4 linked regions of the Homo sapiens genome follow. The protein of the gene in region 3 purifies or fractionates together with the protein of the main gene of each other region. This does not show direct contact. Each region holds a gene or a part of one and is shown on either strand. Other genes may lie near its edges.

Evidence for each region.
Region 1: the proteins of ZNF232 (region 3) and USP48 purify together in Homo sapiens (affinity purification with mass spectrometry; 3 studies listed by BioGRID and IntAct, with this or other methods). This does not show direct contact.
Region 2: the proteins of ZNF232 (region 3) and PPWD1 purify together in Homo sapiens (affinity purification with mass spectrometry; 2 studies listed by BioGRID and IntAct, with this or other methods). This does not show direct contact.
Region 4: the proteins of ZNF232 (region 3) and ZMYM1 purify together in Homo sapiens (affinity purification with mass spectrometry; 2 studies listed by BioGRID and IntAct, with this or other methods). This does not show direct contact.

What each region holds. Positions count from the first base shown.
Region 1 is NC_000001.11:21,773,112-21,780,149, reverse strand, and holds part of USP48 (ubiquitin carboxyl-terminal hydrolase 48), read left to right. Parts: intron 1-7,038.
Region 2 is NC_000005.10:65,559,212-65,566,333, reverse strand, and holds the start of PPWD1 (peptidylprolyl isomerase domain and WD repeat-containing protein 1), read right to left. Parts: upstream 3,039-7,122; 5' UTR 3,024-3,038; coding exon 2,828-3,023; intron 2,532-2,827; coding exon of another isoform or gene 2,495-2,531; intron 1-2,494. Other genes in the region: CENPK (centromere protein K), read left to right, coding at 4,823-4,837. UniProt on the Homo sapiens protein: PPIase that catalyzes the cis-trans isomerization of proline imidic peptide bonds in oligopeptides and may therefore assist protein folding. May be involved in pre-mRNA splicing.
Region 3 is NC_000017.11:5,105,222-5,108,902, forward strand, and holds the end of ZNF232 (zinc finger protein 232), read right to left. Parts: intron 1,313-3,681; coding exon 603-1,312; 3' UTR 515-602; downstream 1-514.
Region 4 is NC_000001.11:35,075,261-35,082,396, forward strand, and holds the start of ZMYM1 (zinc finger MYM-type protein 1), read left to right. Parts: upstream 1-4,124; 5' UTR 4,125-4,182; intron 4,183-7,136.

The sequences.
Region 1 (7,038 bases), on a different chromosome or scaffold from region 3:
TTTCCACCTTTTGCTTATTTTGAGTAGTACTTCTCTGAACATTTGCATACAAGTTTTGGTCTGAACATCTGATTTCAGTTCTTTACCTGGGAGTGGAATTACTGGGTCATACACAGTCAATTCTGTGTTTAACTTAACCGAACCGCGAAACTTCCACAGTGGTTGTACCGATTTACATTCCCACCAGTGATGTATGAGGGTTCAAATGCTTCATCATCCTCATAAACAGGTACTATTTTCTGTTTTTCTGGTTAGGCCCTCCTACTTGGGTGTGAAGTGATGCATCTTTGTAGTTTTGATTTGCATTTTCCTAGTGACTAATGAGTTCAGCGTCTTTTCATGTGCTCGTTGCCTCTTTTCCTTTTATTGATCAATAATATGCCATCATATCTCTGTATCTACCACATTTTTAATTTGCATTCATCTGCTGATAGACATTTGGGTCATTTCTACTTTTTGGCTATTATAATGTTGCTATGAACATTAGTGTAGTAGTTTTTGTGTGGGCATTTATTTTTATTTCTCTTGGTTATAGAGCAAGAAGTGGGATTGTTGGGTTGTGTGGTAACTTTTAACTTTTTATTATTATTATTATTTTTTTTTTGAGACGGAGTCTCTCTGTGTTGCCCAGGCTGGAGTGCAGTGGCGCCATCTCGGCTCACTGCAACCTCTGCCTCCTAGGTTCAAGCGATTCTTGTGCCTCAGCCTCTGAGTCACTGGGATTACAGACGCCCACCACCACACCCGGCTAATTTTTTGTATTTTTTAGTAGAGACTGGGTTTCGCCAAGTTGGCCAGGCTGGTCTTGAACTCCTGACCTCAGGTGATCCACCTACCTCGGCCTCCCAAAGTGCTGGGATTACAGGCTTGAGCCACCGCACCCAGCTCTTTTAACTTTTATTTATTTATTTATTTTTAATGAGGTCTCACTCTGTAACACAGACTGTATTGCAGTGCAATCATGGCTCACTGCAGCCTTGAACTCCTGGGCTCAAGCAATCCTCCCGCCTCAGCCTCCTGCCACTACAGGCACATGCCACAACACGAGGCTAATTAAACAAAATTTTTTTGCTGGGCGTGGTGGCTCACGCCTGTAACCTCAGCACTGTGGGAGGCCAAGGCTGGCGGATCACGAGGTCAGGAGATCGAGACCATCCTGGCTAACGTGGTGAAACTCCGTCTCTACTAAAAATACAAAAAATTAGCCGGGCATGGTGGCGGATGCCTGTAGTCCCAGCTACTCGGGAGGCTGGGGCAGGAGAATGGCATAAACCCGGGAGGCAAAGGCAGGAGAATGGCACGAACCCGGGAGGCAGAGCTTGCAGTGAGCTGAGATACGCCACTGCACTCCAGCCTGGGTGACAGAACGAGACTCCGTCTCCAAAAAAAAAAAAAAATTTGTGGAAATGGAGTCCCACTTTGGTGCCCAAGCTGGTCTTGAACTCCTTGCTTCAAGTGATCCTCCTGCCTTGGCCCCCTGAAATGCTTGGATTGCATGAATGAAACTGTTCATGGCCTTTTTTTGGCTTTTTTTTTTTTTTTTTTTTTAAGATGAGGGTCTTGCTATGTTGTGTAGGCTGTCCTTGAACTCCTGGGCTCAATCAATACTCCTGCCCCAGCTTCCCTGGTAGCTGGGACTGTAGGCACGAACCACCATGTCTGTGTTTAATATTTTGAGGAATTGTCAGGTTACTTTCCAGAGTGGCTGCGCTATTTTACATATTCACAAGCAGTATATGAGGATTCCAATTGCTCTATGTCCCTATACTTGTTACTGCCTTTTTTCTTTTAGCCATCCTAGTGGGTGCGAAGTGGTGTCTTATGTTTTGATTTGTGTTTCATTGATGACTAATCACGTTAAACATCTTTTTGTGTACTTATTGGCCATTCATATATCTTTTTTGAGAAATGTCTGTTTAAATCCTTTGCGTGCTTTTAAATTGAGTTGCCTTTTGTTATTGAGTTGTGATCTTTTTTTGGTCTTGTTTTTGTTTTGTTTTTTTTTTTCAGACGGAGTCTCACTCTGTCACCCAGGCTGGAGTGCAGTGATGCCATCTCGGCTCACTGTAACCTCCGCCTCCCAGGTTCAAGCGATTCTCCTGCCTCAGCCTCCCGAGTAGCTGGGACTACAGGCGCACACCGCCACGCCTAGCTAATTTTTTTTTTTTTTTTTTTTTGGTATATTTAGTAGAGACGGGGTTTCACTATGCTGGCCAGGCTGGTCTCAAACTCCTGACCTTGTGATACGCCCACCTCAGCCTCCCAAAGTGCTAGGATTACAGGCGTGAGCCACTGCATCCAGCCAAGTTGTGTTCTTTATATATACTGCATATAAGTCCCTTATTAAATATATGATTTGCAAATATTTTTTCTAATTTCTATGGCTTTTAATTTTATTGGTGGTATCATTTTCAGTACAAAAGCTTTTCATGTTGATGTAGTCCAATTTCTTCTTCTTCTCCGCCTTCTTATTCTTATCAGTGAAGCAGGGTTCTTGCTTTGTTGCCCAACCTGGAGTGCAGTGGTGTGATTGTAGCTCACTGTAGCCTTAAACTCCTGGTCTCAAGTGATCTTTTTGCCTCAACATCCCCAGTAGGTACAACTGCAAGTTGTACCACCACACCCAGCTAATTTTTTTGGTATTTTTTGTAGAGTTGGGGTCTTACTATGTTACCCAGGCTGACCTTGAACCTTTAGCCTCAAGCAGTCCTGCTTCAGCTTCCCAGAGTACTGGGATTACAGGTGTGAACCACCTGGCCCCAACATTGTACTATTTTTTTTTTGACGCTTTTGGTCTTGTAAGAAGCCACACCTCACCCAAGGTTTGAGCAGTTTTAATTAATGAATTAGTTAATTTTATGAGACAAGGTCTGGCTCTGTTGCCCAGGCTGGAGTACAGTGGTGCAATCTTGGCTCAATGCAACCTCTGCCTCCCAGGGGCTCAAGCCATCCTCCTACTTCAGCATCCCGAGTAGCTGTGACTACAAGCATGCTCCACCACACTCGGCTAATTTTTGGTGTTTTGTTTTTTTTTTTCAGATGGAGTCTGGCTCTGTTGTCCAGGCTGAGTGTAGTGGCGCAATCTTGGCTCACTGCAACCTCCGCCTCCCATGTTCAAGCGATTCTCCTGCCTCAGCCTCCTGAGTAGCTGGGATTACAGGCATGCACCACCACACCTGGCTAATTTTTTTTTTTTTTCTTTGAGACAGAGTTTCACTCTTGTTGCCCAGGCTGGAGTGCAGCGGCACAAACTCGGCTCACTGCAGCCTCCGCCTCCCAGGTTCAAGCAGTTCTCCTACCTCAGCCTCCCGAGTAGCTGGCATTGCAGGCACCACGCCCGGCTAATTTTTGTATTTTTAGTAGAGATGGGGTTTTGCCATATTGGCCAGGCTGGTCTCGAACTCCTGACCTCAAGTGATCCCCCCGCCTTGGCCTCCCAAAGTGCTGGGATTACAGGCGTGAGCCACTGTGCCTGGCCCTGTCAGCTTTTATTTAGATATCCAAAAAGCTCTCTTTCTACTCACTTTCTTCTTTTTTTTTTTTTTTTTTTTTTTTTTGAGACAAGACACTATTCACTTTCTCCTTTTTTATAGAGACAGAGTCTTGTCACATTGCCCAGGCTGGTCTCAAACTCCTGGGCTCTAGCAGTCCTCCCTCCTCAGCCTCCTAAATTGCTGGGATTCCAGACATGAGCCTTTCTCCTTTTGTTTATTTCTTCTCTTTGCAAGAAGAGACTAAATAAATAAATAGTATCACCAATATGTATTTTTCATACTTTATGCAACAATTTGTTATGAGATACCAAAGCTGAAGAATGAGGTGTTTGACCATATTCAAAGACCACATGTGTCAGGACTGTTTACATTTCTGAAAGTACTTAGGGCAATCACAGGATGAAAGCAGTGTGTACTAAATCCTCTGTCCACAGAATTCTGCAAATATTATGTGTCTTGAGGGCAGACTTGTTTGTTAACAGTGAGGTTGGTGGTCAAGTAAGTTCCTGGAAGTAAAATTGTTGGGTAAGGGATGTGTGTTTTTCATATTGATCCATGTTGCTAAATTGCCCCTCAGAATGAGGGTTTCTCTTTACATTTCCCTGTCAATGTGTAAGAGTATCTTACATATACATCATACCCTCACCAACATAATGTGTTAGTCACACTTTCTGATCTAAGTGCAAAGGGTTTCATATGTTTAATATGTATTTATTTTGTTACAATTTCTTTTTGTTACAGTTAATCTTTTGATGTGAAATTTGTTTTGTTTTGTTTTTGAGACGGGGTCTTACTATGTTGCTTAGGCTGGTCTCAAACTCCTGGGCTCAAGGGATCTTCCTTCCTCAGCTTCCTGAATAGCTGGGATTACAAGTGCATGTCACCATGCCCAGCCTTGATATGAATTTTCAAAGGCTGGATTTACTTATGCTTCCAGCCGTGTATAGGGAGTACAATGTCTGTTTTGTTCTCATTAGGGAAACATCATATGACTATTACTAAATTAAAACATTACAGAAATGTGTGAAGCACTCTAGAAAGCCAGTGTCATGCCACCTTACTTCAGTGGCTTTGTAGCTCTAGTCCCAAAACCCTAATGAGGGCCACGCACGGTGGCTTACGCCTGTAGTCCCAACACTTTGTTAGGCCGAGGTGGGAGGATTACTTGAGGTCAGGAGTTTGAGACCAGTCTGGTCAACATGGCAAAAACCCATTTCTACTAAATTAGCCGGGCATGGTGGCGGCATACACCTGTAATTCCAGCTACTCAGGAGGCTGAGGCGCGAGAATTGCTTGAACCCAGGAGGTGTAGGTTGCAGTGAGCCAAGATTGAGCCACTGCACGCCAACCTGGGTGACAGAGTGAGACTCTGTCTCAATAAAAACCAACCAACCAAACAAAATAACCCTAACGAGGACCCATAGTTCCAGCTACACTGGAGACTGAGGTGGGAGGATGGCTTAAGCTTGGGAGGTGGAGGTTGCAGTGAGCCAAGACCATGCCACCGCACTCCAGCTTGGGCGATAGAGCAAGACCCTGTCTCAAAGGAAAAAGAACAAAGGGGAGTCACAATACATACTTTGTTGCAACTTGTTTCTATTCATGCATGTAGAGCTGCCTTATTTATTTATTTATTTATTTATTTATTTATTTATTTATTTATTTTTGAGAGAGTCTAGCTTTGTTGCCCAGGCTGGAGTGCAGTGCGTGAATTTGGCTCACTGCAACCTCCGCCTCCCAAGGTTCAAGTGATTCTTGGGCCTCAGCCTCCGGAGTAGCTGGGACAACAGGCATGGGCCACCATGCTTGGCTAATTTTTGTAGTTTAGTGGAGACGGGGTTTCACCATGTTGGCCAGGCTGGTCTCAAACTCCTAACTTCAGGTGATCTGCCCACCTCAGCCTCCCGAAGTGTTGAGATTACAGGTGTGAGCCACCGCACCTGGCTATTCTTTTTTCGTTTGTTTGTTTTGAGACAGAATCTTGCTCTGTTGCCAGGCTGGAGTACAGTGGTGCAATCTCGTCTCACTGCAACCTCTGCCTCCCGGGTTCAAGCAATTCTCCTGCCTCAGCCTCCTGAGTAGCTGGGACTACAGGGGCGCCCCACCACACCCGGCTAATTTTTGTATTTTTAGTAGAGATATGGTTTCACTGTGTTGGCTAGGATGGTCTCGATCTCCTGACCTCGCGATCTGCCCACCTTGGCCTCCCAAAGTGCTGGGATTACAGGCATGAGCCACTGCGACCGGTCCTATTCTTTCTTAAAAAATATTCTTATGTATGTTTATGATATATAACATAGCATACATACAGATAGTAAAATGGTAACTGTAATGAAGCAGATTGACATCTGTTATCTCACAGTTACAAATTTTGTGTGTGGCAAGAGAAGCTAAAATCTCATTTAGCAGGAGCCCCAAATACATACCTGCCTTATTATTATTATTATTATTATTATTATTATTATTATTATTATTTTGAGACGGAGTCTCGCTCTGTCACCCAGGCTGGAGTGCAGTGGCGTTATCTGCTCTCACTGCAACCTCCACCTTTTGGGTTCAAGTGATTCTCCTGCCTCAGCCTCCCGAGTAGCTGGGATTACAGGCGCATGCCACCATACCCACCTAATTATTGTATTTTTAGTAGAGCCACCACACCCAGCCAGTTACATAGTTTTTTAAAAATAGAGATGGGGTCTTGCTTTGCTGCCCTGACTGGTCTTGAATTCCTGGCTTCAAGCAGTCCTTCCACCTTGCCCTCCCAAAGTGCTGGGATTACAGGTGTGAGCCACTGTGCCTAACCTTCATTATAATTTATTTAACCAGTTTCCTGTTGATGGACTTTGGGGTTTCCGGTTTTTGATAATACAACCCGTGCTGCCCTAGCCAGCCCTCTGCATCGATCTTGAGTGTTGAGTGAGTGTTTTCACTTAGGTTGCTAGATGAGAAATTGCTGAGGTAAAGGGACTGCTTAGAATTTTGATAGATGTCAAAAGTTCATACCATTTATCCTGGTCCTCTAGAGTGAGTGTGCCTATTACCTTATACAAAGCATTTCTATTCCCAGCTTCCATCTGATTAGCGAAAAATAGCATCTTATTTTCATTTGCCATTTTTTGCTGGTGACATTGAGCATCTTTTTAATTTTATTTTTTAGTTTTATAGAGATAGGATCTCATGTTTTGCCCAGGCCGGTCTTGAACTCCTGGGCCCAAGAAATCCTCAGCCTTGGCCTCCCAAAGTGCTGGGATTACAGGCGTGAGCCACTGTGTCCCTTCTCCTTTTTATATTTACTTGCCATTTGTATTTCTCCTGTGAATTGTGTGTTCTGGATTGTTGGTCATTTTCTTACTGATTTTCAAGAGCTTATTGAATATTTCTTTCTTTTTTTTTTTTTTTTTTTTGAGACCGAGTCTCAGTCTGTTGCCCAGGCTGGAGTGCAGTGGTGTGATCTCAGCTTGCTGCAACCTCTGCTTCCTGGGTTCAAGCGATTTTCCTGCCTCAGCCTCCCAAGTAGCTGAGACTACAGGTGCCTGCCACTATGCCT
Region 2 (7,122 bases), on a different chromosome or scaffold from region 3:
GGGCTGTACCTTAGTTATGTTGGGCAGAAAGCTGGAGAGAGCCTAGGAACTTCTGGAGCCTCCACACCAATCCTGGACTGCCTGCCTGTCTTGGTACTTCTACACATAAAAGTACAGCTCTATCTCTTCAACATCGTTATTTTGGGTTTTTCTGTAGTATGTAGATAAACTTAATCCTATCTGATCCAGATTCCTTTTTCTGTGTGATAGTTCACTTGTGGACAAATACTTACTAAGAACACAATACGTTCTAGGTCACATGGGCATAAAGAAGAGTAAAACACAGTTCCTGTCCTGAAGAGATATAGTGCTATATAATCATGTCTTTCTGAAAATATATACAACAGTCCAATGTCCAAAGAACATGTTAAAGGGGGTGACTCCATTTCTAGAAAGCTGAAATTGTTAAATACTTGTCCATTTAGACAAAATTTTAAATATTTTTGTAACATTCTATGTATGTTTTTTAGTTTCAATTTTTTTCTTCAAACTGAATAAACTATTGGCTTTTTTTTTTTTTTTTTTTGAGACGGAGTCTTGCTCTGTTGCCCATGCTGAAGTACAGTGGCACAATCTCAGCTCACTGCAACCTCTGCCTCCTGGGTTCAAGTGATTCTCCTGCCTCAGCCTCCTGAATAGCTGAGATTATAGGTGTGCGCCACCACGCCCGGCTAATTTTTTTGTATTTTTAGTAGAGACTGGCGGGGTTTCACCATGTTGGTCAGGCTGGTCTAGAACTCCTGACCTGATGATCTGCCCGCCTCAGCCTCCCAAAGTGCCAGGATTACAGGCATCAGCCACCACACCCGGCCAACTATTGGCTGTCTTAAAACAATAAATAACTGATTAAGAGGAAAGATTTTCACACCTACTAATTTATATCTGTCTCCGTTATATTAAGTTTATAAGACACTTGTCCGGTAACACTAATATCAGCATTTCGATATTTCTGGATTTTTACATTTCTCCTTACTCGTTTAATTAAAAAAGAACTTGCAAAAATATTCATATGCAACAAAATAGCTAAAGACCAGCATAAAAGCTTTAATATGCAGTCATTAAATACTTAGGCAAAGCACTGTACACCAAGCAATGAAACAAAAAAGGCGTGATTCTGGTTCTTACTTGTTTACAGTCTTAGCAGTGGAGAGAAACATTCATCAATCACATGAATAAATATATAATTAGAAACTGCGGCAAGTGCCATAAATAAAATGGTTACTATGGAAACATTTAATAAGAGGACCAGGAAGTAAAAATGATAATGCACTGTAAGGGTGTCAATATACAACGTTCAAAAAAACAGCTTCTTCAAAATTTGGATACATAAAATTTGAAGGCTACCTGTAAATTCAGTATTGATATATAACTACCTCAGAGTTATGATCAAAGTGCTTCAGAAATCCAGTCCAGACTGGAGAAGTCACAGGCTTCCCAGAGAAGATGATAGCTAAGTGCTAAAGGTTGACCAAAAGTCAGTTCAGTGGAAGAGTTGAGGGAAATTATTCCCGGTAGAAACACCATATCTGGGTAGGAATCCAGAGGAAAAAAAAGTACAAGACCGATTCTCGAGTGATTTTAGAATGGGTGGAGTACAAAGTAAGGGGTTGGGAGAGGAAGGTAATGGAAGATGCACTAAGAAGGTAAGGAGAGATCACATCATAAAGGGCTTTATATGCCATGTGAGGGAGTTTGGGCTTTAATGAAAATAATGAGCTGGGCGCCGTGGCTCATGCCTGTAATCCCAGCACTTTTGAGAGGCCGAGGCAGGCAGATTACGAGGTCAAGAAATCAAGACCATCCTGGCCAACATGGTGAAACCCCGTCCCTACTAAAAATACAAAAATTAGCTGGGCGTGCGCCTGTAGCCCCAGCTACTCGGGAGGCTGAGGCAGGAGAATCGCTTGAACCCCGGAGACGGAGGTTGCGGTGAGCCGAGATAGCGCCACTGCATGCGCTCCAGCCTGGGCGACAGAGCGAGACTCCGTCTCAAAAAAAAAAAAAAAAAAAAAAAAGAGAGAGAAAATAATGACAAATCATTGAAGTTTTTTAAGGGAAGGTGCTAAAGTACGATTTGAGCTTAGACCACATTTAAAATGTCTTAAATACTTAAGGAAAACATTTCACAGAAAAACAAGATAACAAAACAACAAAGACAAGAAAACTTAATCTACCCCTTTTCCCACCCCTTTTATTTGATAATAATTTGTGATTATTCCTCGTTAGTGACAAAAAGACTCAGCCCATCGTATCAAGAGCGTGATTTCAAAACCACAGACTTCGGGTTTTGGATGAAAACAAATCTGTGATCTAGGAAGCTTACGTCATTTTCCCTAGATGCGAAAATTTATTAGTGGAAGTGTCAGAGTTGAAATTATCTTTACCTACCATGATTCGAAATAAGCACCGCCTTCCTCTCGCGCCCCAACACATTAATACATTAACACCACTCCTGAACTAAAGCCTTAAAGAGAACTGGTACCCTTTTGCATACCTAAATAAGAGTTCGAAATTCCAACTTCATGTGGCTGCTGTGGGGAGTAAATGAGAGGAGCCAAACACATAAGAATAGGAAAATGTTAGTTTTAGCATCTGTCATAACAAATCAATGATCAAAAGTGTTAGATATTATCAAAAAGACGTTGTACTACGCTTAAATCACTATTTCGTTAAGACATGCAAGTATGGAGTAGCCAGAAGTGAGAGGACGGCCCTCTGTTCTGAGGGCACAAAACTCCACACATCATCCCTCTTCGGATCTGGCTTGAACCCTCCTACTCAGCGGACGCAGCACTCCAATTCGTCCCGGTACTATGTCTGCAGCTACCTTTCCTCTTCTTGGCCAGTGTTGCCTCCACAGGTAAAGGTCCAACCCAGCGCTCTTCGTTCTCCTCATCGTTCTCCTGGGACACCGCCACTGCTACTGCCAGCTCTCTTTCGCTGAGTTCTGTTTTTTCCGGTTCCTCCGGGTCCCGGCGCCTTCTACGTCTCTGCTGAAAATCGCTACCACTTTCCGCCGCCATGTTGTTCGCATCGTCAGAAAAGGCGCGACACAAAACTCAGCTACCAATCCCAAAGCAGCGGCGCAGTCTTCTGTCAGCGTCCGAGCGAGTTTCGGGATTGGCTGGGGTGGGAATGAGCACATCCAATGGGCATGCAGCGCGCGCAGAAGTCCGGGGCTGGCAAGCGCTTCCTGCGCAGCGCCTAGGCGACCTGGAGTTTGTGACGCTGTGATGGTAAGACCTGGGCCGGGGAGGTTGATATAACGGTTGAATCTTGTGGAGCTCCAGTCCTGAAGGTGAAACCCTTATCGCCGGCCAACTAGATACCTGACTTCCCAGCCGGGCTTTGAGTCCCGTTCTTCTCGGCTTCCCGCGCGCCAACGCAAGCTCCATAACCTCACCAATATTTAGAGAAAGATGGAAGGGTGGGGACAGAAGGAAGTGGTTAACTCGCGGGTTTCCTTTCAGATGCACTAAACATGTTTTCTCTCCTGACCTTTATTCTCTCACACACTCTCTGAAGAAGGTGGTGAGTGCTTGTTACTGTTTCTGGGGGTGGGGTGGAGAAGCAGCTACTTCAAATAACCAAAAGACCTAGGGCAGAACGGGTCACTCTTCTTTCTTCTCTCTGGTATAGGATTTCATCTCCTAGCAGTCATCTGAACTCTTTCTCCTCCTCCTCATCTGTCTTCTTCATTTTTAAAAAATTAGGTAAAAAGCACATAACATAAAATGTATTATCTTAATCTCTTTTTTAAAAAATCAAATACAGCTTGTCAAAATGACCTCCGTAAAACACTTCTTTTTTCTCTGCAATTACTTTTGCACCAACCTAATAAAATCCTCGTCGTAAATCTCTTCTCTACTTTTGCCTTGAGATAGGCACCACGTACAGGGAAGGAACTGCCCCCCCATAGTAGGCACTTTATTTTATTTCAAAGGTTCCCATTATTTGACCATTCTACCTAGCAAGTCTCATTTCTTCTCTGCCCTCTGCTCTCATCAGACTACTTTCTTTTGTGTCTCACAAATTTCCCTTGTTCGTTCTTGCCTCCTACTCTTATGTTTTTATGCTTGAAAGCATCTCCACAGCGATTTAGCCTTCATGTTTACAGCTTCTCATCTTTCAGAGACCAATGCAATAATGAGGATGAAGATGATAATGATAATGATAATAATAATGTAGCTAGTTAACATTTATTAAGCATTATTATGGACTAATTCCTTCCGGGTTGGTTTTTCTAAGCTTCCCTATCCTGAATTCCGATAGTACTTGCAGGCAGTGTTGTATACTTTACCATTTCATAGCACTTCTGACTACCTGAAATCATATCATGTATTTAGTTATCCATTCATTTATATTGTCTGCATGAGAATGGAAGCTCTACAAGTACAAAGACTTTTTCATCTACACAGCTAAAGCCAGTGTCTGACCAATGGCACACATTAACATATTTGTTGAATAAATGAATGTATTTTAGAATTATGTGGGTATTTTTTGCTTATTTCATGTATATTAATCTTTTCCCAATTAATAGTACGAGTTTCTTTAAGTATAGTATTATCCCTAAATAAAGAGATACTGTTTTTCTTCAATAAATGATTAAGTATTGTAGTCCTAACTGGGGACCTCAAAAAGTTGACTTGTTCCCTTTCCAGGAAGATAGGTTTAAGGATACAAAATGTGGGAACGGGAAAAGTTCAACTCTTAAGTGTGTGTGTGTGTGTGTGTGTTTTAATTAAACAACTGAAATTTATTTCTCACAGGTCTAGAGGCTGGAGATTCAAGATCTGGGTGCCATCATTTTCTGGTTCTGTTGATGACCCTCTTCCAGGTTACATACAGCTTACATCTTGCATCCTCAAGCGGTAGAGAGCAAACTCTTAAATGTTTCTATATGTTTTTATTCTACTGCCACATTAAATCGCCAAGCCAGATAATTTGTTGAATATTTATCCCTCACCCTCCGCCCCCACCACATGTGCAGAGTTTTGCATTACTTTTGCATATTGATAATGTATTTTGGTGGTCAGTAAAGAAATATTTATGTTTGACTTTTTCGCTTAAAAATATTCTAAAATTCATGATGACTGATTTTGGCTTTGTGAACTTAAACTGTATCTTATGGGTATAGCAGGTGAGATTTTCAGCCTTCTACTAGTTGACATTCAAATTGTTAATAGCTAACACTGATAAAGCTCTTTATATGCTAGCTACAGTACTTATATATATATATTTATATACTCATTTAATTGTCATAACCCTAGGGAGTATTTAATATTATCTTCATTTTATAGGAAAGGAAACTGAGGCATAGAAAGTTTAAGTGACTTGCCCAAGTCTCATAGCTTTTAAATATCAAAACAGATTTAAACCTGTATAGTCTGGTTGCAGAGTTCATACCTTTAAAGTTTTTTTTTCTCTAAGTAATGTGCCAGTAAACATAATTGTATAGACTTATGCAGACATATCTATCTTTAGGATTATTCCTAAGAATAGAACTTCTGGATCACAAGAAATGCATGTAAAATTTTGATGGATATTATCATACAAAGTGATTGTTCCACCAACAGTGCAAGCCTCTTATTTCACATGCTTGCCAGTATTATCTCTTACCAATTTTACATTATTGCCATTCTGAATGAAAATTAATGCTTGTTTAATTTGGATTTTCATAAATTATATATGAGCTTATGAATGTACTTTTTCTGTATTTAAAAGGTATTTGTTTTTTCTTTGAATTCCTCATTTGTGTTCTTTGCCAGTTTCTATTGAATTGTTTTTGTTGTTTACCTTTTTATTGTAAAAATGCAGACACAAAATAAACGTAAAGTTTACTAATTATTATGAGGTGAACACCCTTACCATCATGCTAGTCAAAAAATAAAACTTTGATAATTACCTCAGAAATCTCTCCATTTGGCCCATCCCAGCCACAACCCTTTTCCCCCTTCCACTCTTCCTCCAAAGTAATTGGTAACCTGACTTTTTTGGTAATCTTTTTTAAATTTTTTTTAATGGTGAGTTGTTTGGTTTCTTCTTATGAATTTGTAGGCACTTGTTATATATTAAGGAAATTAGGTCTTGGGTTGCCATATATATTACAAGTATTTCTCCTAGGTTTGGGGGTTTTAAATTTTAACTTTGTTGATGAGATGTTTGTCCATGCAGAATTAAAAAAAAAATTTTGGTGTAAAGATTTTACTTAGTTTTGCTTAGAAAGGTGTTTCCTAATCTAAGATTTTAAAAGTTTCTGTGTTTTCATCCTATTTTTTTGTGATTTCTATTTTGGGTTTTTTGAGGGAGTGAGGAATGACATAAAGATTCAGGTATGAATTTAGACTTATTTTTTTCTCCGCAAATACTATAAATGTTAAAAAAAAATGAGGAAGATTTATATGGACCAAAATATACATTTAAAAAACAGTATTATATATAAAATATATATCTATTTGGATTATTTTTTTCTCCTTGATTTGCCTTGTCATCTCTGTCATGTGTCATGTGTCCATATGTATGTGAATATAGAAAGTCAAGAAAGGCTTTGTATTGTGTTCCATTGCTCAATTTGCCTATTTATGTGCCAGTTCTACATTGCCATAATAGTGTAGGGTATGTCCTCCCATCTTATTTTTCATGAGGATCTTAGGCTAGTTTTGGCCCTTTGTGCTTCCATGTAAATTTTTTTTTTTTTTTTTTTCTGAGACGGAGTCTCGCTCTGTCGCCCAGGCTGGAGTGCAGTGGCGGGATCTCGGCTCACTGCAAGCTCCGCCTCCCGGGTTCACGCCATTCTCCTGCCTCAGCCTCCCAAGTAGCTGGGACTACAGGCGCCCGCCACTACGCCCGGCTAATTTTTTGTATTTTTAGTAGAGACGGGGTTTCACCCTTTTAGCCGGGATGGTCTCGATCTCCTGACCTCGTGATCCGCCCGCCTCGGCCTCCCAAAGTGCTGGGATTACAGGCGTGAGCCACCGCGCCCGGCCCTTCCATGTAAATTTTACAATTTGCTTGTCAAGTCCCATAAAGAGAAACAAAAACTTTCAGGATTTTGGTTAAGATTCAGTAGCTCAACTTGGGGGAGAATTAACGTCTTTACAATGTGGGTCTTTCAGTCCATGA
Region 3 (3,681 bases):
AAAAAAATTCTAATGAAGTAGCCAGGCATGGTGGCTCAGGCCTGTAATCCCAGCACTTTGGGAGGCAGAGGTGGGCAGATCACGAGGTCAAGAGATCGAGAACAGCCTGACCAACATGGTGAAACCCCGTCTCTACTAAAAATATAAAAAATCAGCTGGGCATGGTGGCACATGCCCGTAGTCCCAGCTACTTGGGAGGCTGAGGCAGGAGGACTGCTTGAACCCGGGAGGTGGAGGTTGCAGTGAACTGAGATCGTGCCACTGCACTCTAGCCTGGCGACAGAGCAAGACTCCGTCTCAAACAACAACAACAACAAAATTCTAATGAGGTAGACATTATTGGTGGGCAAACTAGGCAGATCATGCTGGAAAGAAGCAAAACAACTTGGCTACTACTTGCATCCAAAGCATCCTAATTAATATCAGTATCTTCATCAGAGGACATGAAGGGATGATCTACAGGCAGAACTAAGTAAACAGTTTTTCCAAAATCAAGAAAGACACAGGAAAAATCTTAAGGAACTTATAACTTTTATGGGATCCAGTCCTAAAGTAGATTAGACCGATGTAGAATTCTGTCTGGAGACGTTCTCCCCTTCAATTCAATGGGAAGGCTCTTTTCTGGCATGAACTCTCCGATGTCTAATGAGCTCTGAGCACCATCCATAAGCTTTCCCACATTCTTTACATATAAAAGGTTTCTCTCCACTGTGAATTCTCCGATGCTGACTTAGATATGAGCTTTGACTAAAGGCCTTCCCACACTCATTACACTCATAGGGCTTCTCTCCTGAGTGAATCCTCTGATGCTGAACAAGATGAGCACCCCATCTGAAGGCCTTCCCACATTCATTACATTCGAAGGGTTTCTCTCCTGTATGAATTCTCTGATGCTGACCGAGGTTTGAGCTCTGTTTGAAAGTTTTCCCACAGTCACTACACTTATAGGGTTTCTCTCCAGAATGAACTCTCTGGTGGACAACAAGATGTGAGTTATAAATGAAGGTTTTACCACATTCACTACATTCATGGTCTTTCTTCCCTGTGGGAATTTCCTTATGGATGACAACCATCTGCCTGAAACTTTCCTCCTGGGCAGGGGACCACCTCAGTCTCTCCGCTTTGGGATTTCTCTGCTGCAGTTCTAAGGTACCCTCAGAGGTAGCTTCAAATGTAGAGGTGTCAGTAGCAAGTTTTTCTGAGAACACCTGTGATTCCACTTCAGTAATGGGTGGTTGTGGCAATGATCCTTTGTCCTTGGGCTCTGGGCCATCTTCTGTAACAACTGACAGAAAATGTAAATATACCTGTTCTGGATGTATGAAGAAATGACACTTAGATTAAAATGTATATTTCTGGAATGAAAACAAATGCTTAAAAACAACTATATATATGACAAACATTCGAAGAATATTTACTGGATATTGCCAACAGTTATCTCTTGGTGATGGGACTATACAGAGGAGAGGGTTTCTTCTTTTTAATTTCTCCCATTTATCTGCTTTTTTTCCCCTAATTTCTCCATAATGAAACACTAAAGAAGTTTTATTGAAAAAATGAAAGCAATTACAATGCATGGTCTTTTTAGGATTTTTCATATTTTCAAGGAATCAGGGAATGATGTTGTGAAGAAAGGGAAAAACATGAAAGAATCATTAGGGTTAAGGAAAAGGGAGGTTTCTAAAGGCAAAAAAAACTGTGCCCTTCCTGGCTCTGCAACCTTCACCTCTTCCCATCCGTTTCCCAGCTGCATCAATCTATAGCCTCTTTAGAGGACTCTCAACTAACTGCCTCCTTTATCAAAGGGAGGACTTCCAGCTCCCTGCCTCCTATCTGCTTGGTGCTCTCTGCCTTTCTCTTCCTTAAAAAGGGAAAAAGAGTGTGTTGCCGGGCGTGGTGGCTCACACCTGTAACCCCAGCACTTTGGGAGGCCAGGGCGGGTGGATCACGAGGTCAGGAGATCGAGACCATCCTGGCCAACACGGTGAAACCCCGTCTCTACTAAAAATACAGAAAATTAGCCGAGCATGATGGCGGGCGCCTGTAGTCCCAGCTACTCAGGAGGCTGAGGCAGGAGAATGGCGTGAACCCGGGAAGTGGAGCTTGCAGTGAGCCGAGATCACGCCACTGCACTCCAGCCTGGGCGACAGAGCGAGACTCCATCTCAAAAAGGAAAAAAAAAAAAAAAAAAAAAAAAAGAGTGTGTTGCCTTTTTGTTTTTAAATGTCCATAGCACATTTTATGTTTTATCTGTTGTAATGCTCCCTATAGCCTAAGGAGAACAGAAACCAATTGCTTTAAGATAACTCAAGGTCATTTGACTTTTTTTTTTTTTTTGACAGAGTCTTGCTCTGTTGCCCAGGCTGGAGTGTAGTGGCATGATCTTGGCTCACTGCAACCTCTGCTTCCCTGGTTCAAGTGATTCTCGTGCCTCAGCCTCCCCAGTAGCTGGGATTACAGGCGCGTATCACACCTGGCTAATTTTTGAATTTTTAGTAGAGACAGGGTTTCACCATGTTGGCCAGGCTGGTCTTGAACTCCTGACCCAAGTGATCCACCTGCCTTAGCCTCCCAAAGTGCTGGGATTATAGGCGTGAGCCACCGTGCCCAGCCAAGATCATTTGATTTTTTAAAAATTCATTTTTTCAGGTTAAATGCTGTGGTTAAAAAAATCTGAAATATGCTTGCTATATATAAAAAAAAAATCACACAATAGCTAGCTTCTTTTTGAGAGTAAAGTAATAAAATTGATAAATGAATAGAGGCTTACTAAACAGAAGTAAAGGAGACAAGAAAAAGTCTGGAAAAAAGTCAAGGAAGAAAGAAGAGCTAAGAAGTAGAAACATACTTTTGGGACAGAGTCTAATTAATCTCCATTTCTATTTTTTCCCATTTTGTAACTAAGAAGAATTTGATTTTTCAAATGCCTTGGTTTGGTGATAGTGATGGGGGGGCAGTTATGGTGTAAAAGCAAATATCAAGTAGACTCTTCTTGGTTAGCCGCATATTCACAATACGGTCACAAGGCTACAGAGGTCAACAAGGAGAGTTCACGCCCCTGAGGCTCTAAGTCTAGTGTTCGCCGCTGGGAGAGAGGAGAGGTTGTTTGCAGGTATGTATGCAGGCCAAGAAGGAAGTTTCTGTAGTGAATCTGAAGGGTAGAAGGTGAGGGCACACATAAGAGAGTTTCAGATAGGGCTGTTTACATGAGGAAGAGGTGGTAAAGGTGATGACAGGCTGTATCTCACATAGGAGTGCTTTATGGCTTAAAAAGTGTTTTGCGAGGCCTCAGCGAGTTTAAAAAAAAAAAAAGGATCTCAAGGCTGGCCTCTAGCTCAGGGCAGAGTTATTATAGACTAGGAGTTAAGTGCAGTGGAGATGATAAGGCATAAATGAATGAGCTATTTCCTGGTCCTGATTTAGGGCTCTCTAAAGTTAAGAGATGCTGGCCAGGCTTTATATCCAGATAAGACCCAAGTTGAGCTTAATCCTCAGAGCTATCTTATGAGGTAGTTTATTCTTACTCCTAATTTTATGAGTGATGAAACAGGCAAAGTCTCTCACCTAAGAGATAAGAATAGTAAGGCTGTGATGATACCAAACATTTAAGCACCTACTACTATTTACCCTTTACAGGTACTAGGTACTGTGCCCTTTATAGTCCCTCTTTCTCCTCTCCCT
Region 4 (7,136 bases), on a different chromosome or scaffold from region 3:
TGCTTGTGTTTGTCTTTAATGGTGAGGTGAGTCTCTTGTAGGCAGCAATATGTTGGGTCTTGCTTTTTTGTTGTTTTTTGTTTTTTTTGAGTCAGAGTTTCACTCTTATTGCCCAGGATGGAGTGCAATGGCACAATCTCAGCTCATTGCAACCTCTGCCTCCTGGGTTCAAGTGATTCTCCTGCCTTACTTCCACTCACATAAAGGAAGCCCCGGATTGGTTTATAGATGGCAGCCATCAAAAAACCCTCCCCTCCAAGAGGATATGCCATTACTGAGGGATATCATGATGATACCCACTCTCTCCCACCTAGAAGAGTTGTAGAGGCTGCCCCCTTGCCTTTGGGCACATCCTACCAAAAAGCAGAAATTAATTGCCCTAATAAGAGCATTAACCCTAGCAAAAACCACACAAGTTAATATATACACCAATTCCAAATATGCCTATAACATCAACCATTCCAATGCCCAAATGTGGAGCAAGTGGGGCTATCTCATGGTTAAGGGAACAACTATCATTAATGGAAAACCAATCCATCATCTACTAAAGGCAGCTTTACTTCCAGGAAAGGTTGCAGTTATTCATTGCAAAGACATCAATCAGATAAAAGCTACATTTCTTTAGGGAACTGTGAGGCTGACTATTGTGCTCAACCAATCACCCAATTCCCCAATACCTATTTCCCCTCATACAACATATCCCCTCCTTTTATCCAGAACACCAAATACAACAACTAATCATGGCAAGGGCACAATTCAAACCCCCATACTGGTTCATACAAAACAAATTAGTCCTACCTGACCCTGAAAAAGCAACTCTTTCACAGGACATTCACAACCTCTTCCACACTAGCCATTGCCCTCTACATTTCTTAAGTTCCCATATACACATAACCCCAGATATAAAGGAACAGTTAAAAGCCATTCCCCATCAACGCTCTATTTGCCAGAAAACTTCACCCCACTGCAACACTAGACCCCCTTCTTTCCCAACCTGTCAAGCCAGGGGACACCTTCCAGGACAGGACTGGCAAATTGATTTTACCCATATGCCCCCAGTAAAAAAAGGTTCAATTTCTGGCCGGATGTGGTGGCTCACACCTGTAATCCCAGCACTTTGGGAGGCTGAGGTGAGCGGATCACTTGAGGTCAGGAGTTCAAGGCCAGCCTGACCAACATGGAGAAACCCCATCTCTACTAAAAATACAAAATTAGCTGGGCATGGTGGCGCATGCCTGTAATCCCAACTACTCAGGAGGCTGAGGCAGGATAATCACTTGAACCAAGGAGGTGAAGGTTGCGGTGAGCCAAGATTGCGCCATTGCACTCCAGCCTGGCAACAAGAGCGAAGCTCCATCTCAAAAAAAAAAGAAAGGAAAACAAATGAATCAGCCAGGCACGTTGACTCACGCCTGTAATCACAGCACCCAGGGAGGCTGAGGTGGGCAGATCACTTGAGGTCAGGAGTTCAAGACTGGACTGGCCAACATGGCGAAACCCCATCTCTACTAAAAATACAAAATTAGCTGGGCATGATGGGGCACTCCGGTAGTCCCAGCTACTTGAGAGGCTGCAGCAGGAGAATCGCTTGAACCCAGGAGGCAGAGGTTGCAGTGAGCCACCAAGATCACGCCATTGCACTCCAGCCAGGGTGACAAGAGCAAAACTCTGTCTCAAAAAAAAAAAAAAAGAAAAGAAAAGAAAAAGAATGAATCAAGCTTCCTATCTCCCAGAGCTCTCCTCCTATTCCTTAGGACTTAATCTTTCAGCCAGTATAAACTATTGAGACTTCAGGGCAAGAAAGACGCATGAAACTTGTGACCTACATCTACTGCTTGAAATATTGGGCCAAATTTTCAGATCTATCACTGGGGGTGGTTGGAATATCACATCTCAAAATTATCACACATCCTTACAATTTTTTATGATATCATGAATCCTACCATTTTTTCAACTCAACTCCCAAGGAAGTTAGTAATGACGATGAAACCACCATTGCAAGATTATGACTGAGACCATGAAGGAGATCTAACCTAATGGACTCCATCTTGGTTCTAACTTTAAACTGTCCTTGTTCCTTCCTGGGCATAGGCTAAACTAACTTTGGGAGGAATTTAGTTTATAGTTTAAAACAAAGACAATAACAGCCCTTTCCCAAAACAAACCTCCTCCTTGCCTGGGGACTAGACTGCCTTTATAAGATTAACAAATTAGCCACAAGATTAGAAATTATGGTTTAGGAGTCATGCAGCTGGAGGCCAAGATTCTGACCCTCCCTAAACTGCTCCTGAGACCAGTGCTTGAGATATTTTGCAGACCCTGCACTTGATGGATCAGCTGGTACCACCCAGATAGATAAACAGGCTCATCTGATCTTGTGGCCCCCACCAGGGAACTAACTCAGCGCATGAGGACAGACAGCTTCAACTTCCCATTATTTCATCTCCTACCTAACCAATCAGCGCTTCTGGCTCACTGGCTTCCCCCCACCCACCAGTTGTCCTTAAAAACTCTGATTCCCAAATGCTCGAGGAGACTGATTTAAATAATAATAAAATTTCAGTCTCCCGCACAGCTGGCTCTGCGTGAATTACTCTTTCTCTATTGCAATTCCCCGTCTTGATAAATGGACTGTGTTTAGGTAGCGGGCAAGGTGAACCCACGGGGCATTTACAATGACATCACTTGCCTTTGGATGCCCACTGAACCAGGACTCATTTCTGGGTTCCAATCTAATCCCAGTCACTGAGTTGCTGTGTAACTTGGGGCAAATTACCTTTATCCTCTTGCCTTCAGCTTTTCCTTTGGTAGGAAGGGAGCATTAGAGGAGAGATCATTTCAGTAAGGTCCTTTCTAATCCTAACAGTCTAAACAGATTATTATGAATATTAGAAGGTAATAATAAATGTTGGAGAAATTAACTTCAGTTACTCGTATAATATTTCAAATTACCAAAGGGTTTATATTAGATTTGAGGCTAATTCCAAAGGATATTTAAGGACCATAGCAGCAAGGATTAGGAGGCCCTTTTGGTCTGGACCTCACCTTCACAAGGGCCTCAAATTTAGATTTTTGAGAATATCTCCTTTAAAAGTAATTGTCAAATATGATTATAATAAGTTCATCATTCAACCTTATATATATATTTTAGAATCCTCTTATGCCTTTAGGAATAGCACAGTTAGTTCGTCCTATACTTTTTTAGGTGTTGAAAGTATTGTCAAAAAACATTTAAAATATGCCATTATTTTTGACATGCAGTTTGGGGTTATTTTAATTTTTTTTTTTTTTTTTTTTTTTTTTTTTGAGACGCAGTCTCTCTCTGTCGCTCAGGCTGAAGTGCAGTGGTACAATCTCAGCTCACTGCAACCTCTGCCTCCTGGCTTCAAGCGATTCTCCTGCCTCAGACTCCCAAGTAGCTGGGATTACAGGCGCCCGCCTCCATGCCCGGCTAATTTCTGTATTTTTAATAGAGACGGGGTTTCACCATGTTGGTCAGGATGGTCTTGAATTCCTGAACTCAAGCAGTCCACCCGCCTCGGCCTCCCAAAGTGCTGGAATTATAGGTGTGACCCACCACACCCAGCCTGGGGTCATTTTAATTTTAACGTACTAATGAAAGAAGTCTGAACTCCCTCCCTACCTCTGAGGATAATTTCCTTTTACTAGGAATTTACTCTGCAACTGGCACTTTGCTAACATTGCCTGTCATATTTTTTTTTTTTGAGTCCAGCTTCTGCAGAAGCCTGCCTAATGTTTACAAACCTACGATGCAGCCACTACAATTATCCCCATTTCAAGGTCGAAGAAATGGAGATTTATAGAAGTTGTCAAATCGCTTACTAGCACACAGCTAATAAGTAGTAAAGCCATCTCTCAAATCCAGGAAATCTAACTGCCCTGCCTGAGCTCTGAGTCAAGGGTCCTACTTTGGCTGCCAGCCAGCGACGACTTCAAGGGTAAGATCCTATGCGGGCCGTAAGGACTCTTCCCCTCCCCCTCTCCCACTTCTTCTATCCCAAAGTCGCTCTTCCCAATTCAGGGAGCTGGGACCACCCTGAGCCAGCGGCCCTGCGCATGCTCAACCGCAGAGCACGACGGGAGAGGGGCGGGGTCGGCGGGGCCGTTTCGCTTCGAAGATTGTTTCAGAAGCGTTGGGCGGGGCGTCCCTGAGAGAAATTAGTAAGCCTCCTCATGCGGCTCTGGTTTCGGTCTTTACTCCTGCGCCTTACTCGAAAGGGGCAGGGTTTCTGCTGTCGGTCGGAGGGAGGATGACGCGCCGGGTCGGGGTTTTAGAGACGGAGCTTTGAGTGCGGATTCCGCCAGATGGGGGTCGGGAACTCCGGGCCAGGCCCTGACGTGGATTGTGTTTGCCGCCTCCTTTAACCTTGCCCTCATAGACTGGGGGGGTTAGTGCTCCCCGCTTCCAGCGATTCTCGCCGCCTCCTGCTCCTGTGTAGTAACTGGGCCTTCAGACTTTAGTCTCGCTCCGCAGCCTCCGTTTCAGAAGCCCCATCACACCTGTATCTCTCCTTCATTGAGCAGTGATTTTTCAAAAGTTTGACTCCTGGCCGGGCGTGGTGCCTCAAGCCTGTAATCCCGACACTTTGGGAGGCCCAGGCGGGCGGATCTCTTGAGGTCAGAAGTTCGAGACCAGCCTGGCCAACATGGCAAAACCCCGTCTCTACTAAAAGTACAAAAATTAGCTGGGCTTGGTGGCAGGCGCCTGTAATCTCAGCTACTCAGGAGGCTGAGGCAGGAGAATCGCTTGAACCGGGAGGCAGAGGTTGCATTTAGTCGAGATCGTGCCACTGCACTCCAGAGCGAGACCCCGTCTCAAAAAAAAAAATGAAATGTTTGCTGAACCCCAAAAGCACAGTTTGAACGCTGCTGATTTACAAGATTAATTTTAAGGTATTTGGTATCAGGGACCTTCCTGACATGACCCATGTCTACTTTTCAAACTTTCCAGTTCCTTCTACTAGCACTCTTGCACTTGTACTTTATCTGCAACAACAGTCCCACTCCTTCTAGTTCCCATATATTTGTGCTTCTTTTTTTTTTTTTTTTTTTGGAGACTGGGTCTCGCTCTTTGGCCCAGGCTGAGTGCAGTGACACGATCACGGCTCACAAGCAGCCTCAGCCTTCCGAGCTTAAGCGATCCTCCCACCTCAGGTTCCAGAGTAGCTGGAACAACAGGTGCTCCCCACTACGCCCAGCTAATTTTTGTATTTTTTGTAGAGACAGGTTATCTTCATGTTGCCTAGGCTGGTCTCGAACTCCTGAATCGAAGCAATCCACCTGCTTGGGCCTCTCAAAGTGCTGGGATTACAGGCTTGAGCCACTGTGCCCGGCTATTTGTGGTTTTGTACATGCTGTCTCTATACCAGGAATATCCGCCATCATTGGTTGGTAGACACTTTAAAACCCAGCTCAAATTTCACCTCCCAGAAGACTGACCGTCTTCTTTTTTCATTTCTTCTCAGTACCTTGTATATACTTACTGGTTGGGACATCCTACTCATCAGTGTAACCCGGTACCAAGGCACTTCGGAAATGATGGCTCTTCATTGCCTGCAGAATTAACCATGGACATTTTAGTTTGGTTTGAAAAACATATAGCCTTCTGCCTCCAGCCTTCCCATCAGGCTAGTAAAAGACCTTGCAGAACTCAGTTGAATAAAATAATTTTTTTTTTTTGAGACAGCATTTCACTCTTGTCTCCCAGACTGGAGTGCAGTAGCGCGATCTCAGCTCACTGCAACCTCCACCTCCAGTTCAAGTGATTCTCCTGCCTCAGCCTCCCAAGTAGCTGGGATTACACCACACCTGGCTAATTTTTGTTTAGTAGAGACAGGGTTTCACCATGTTGGCCAGGCTGGTCTAGAACTCCGACCTCAGCTGATCCACCCTCTCAAAGTGCTGGGATTGCAGACAGGAGCCACCGTGCCCGGCCGAATAAAATAAATCTTAGCAAAGTGTAATGTATAAAGAAGTGGTATAATGCGAAGAAATAAGGGATAGGAGTATATCTGCTTCCAGACTCTGTTTTGTTTTTGCTTGTGTCCATACCACACTATCTTAATTTACTGTAGCTTTATAAGCCCTTCCAACATTTTTTTTTTTTGATATTGTCTTGGTTATGCTAGGCTCTGTATGCACATTGTATATACATTAGAATTACCTTACAAATTCCACAAAAACCCCTGCTGGGATTTTCATCTACAGCTTAATTAGGAGAAAAATTAATATTGACTCTTTCCATCAATGAGCATTTATTTAGATCTTCCTTAATTTCTCTCAGCAATGTTTTGTTTTCACTGTAGAGTTCTTTAATAGCTTTCATTAGATTTATTCCTATATTTGATATTTATGATGCTGCAGAAAATGGTTATTTTTATATTTTTCTGTTCTAGTATAAAGAAATAAAATTGATTTTTTGTTTGTTTGTTTGAGACGGAGTCGCACTGTGTCACCCAGGCTGGAATGCAGTGGCACAATCTCGGCTCACTGTAGCCTCTGACACCCAGGTTCAAGTGATTCTCCTGTTTCAGCCTCCTGAGTAGCTGGGATTACAGGTGCCCACCACCATGCCCAGCTAATTCTTTTGTATTTTTAGTAGATACGGGTTTCACCATGTTAGGCTGGTCTTGAACTCCTGACCTCAGGTAATTCACCCATCTCTGCCTCCCAAATTGCTAGGATGACAGGCGTGAGCCACTGCACCTGGCCAAAATTTATTTTCGAATGTCTTGCTAAGCTTAATAACTTGGAGATTCTTTTGAATTTTCTTTGTATAGAATCATGTCATCCATGAATAATAACAATTTTAACTGCCTTTTCAAAGTTTGTCTTTTATTTTTTCTTGCTTTATTGATCTAACTAGAACTTCTACTACAATGTTGAAGATAAGTGATAAGAAAAATTCTAAAATGCGGATCTTGTATTATCCTATAATTCTGCTGAATTCACTTATTCTAATAGTTTCTTTTGCGGGGGGTGAGTTGGGGGAGGTTCCTTAGAGTTTTCTATATGCAGTCATGTCTACAAATAAAAAGTTTTCTTCCTTTCCAACTTTTTTTTTTTTTTAAATGGAGTCATGCGCTGTCACCCAGGCTGGAGTGCAGTGGCATGAT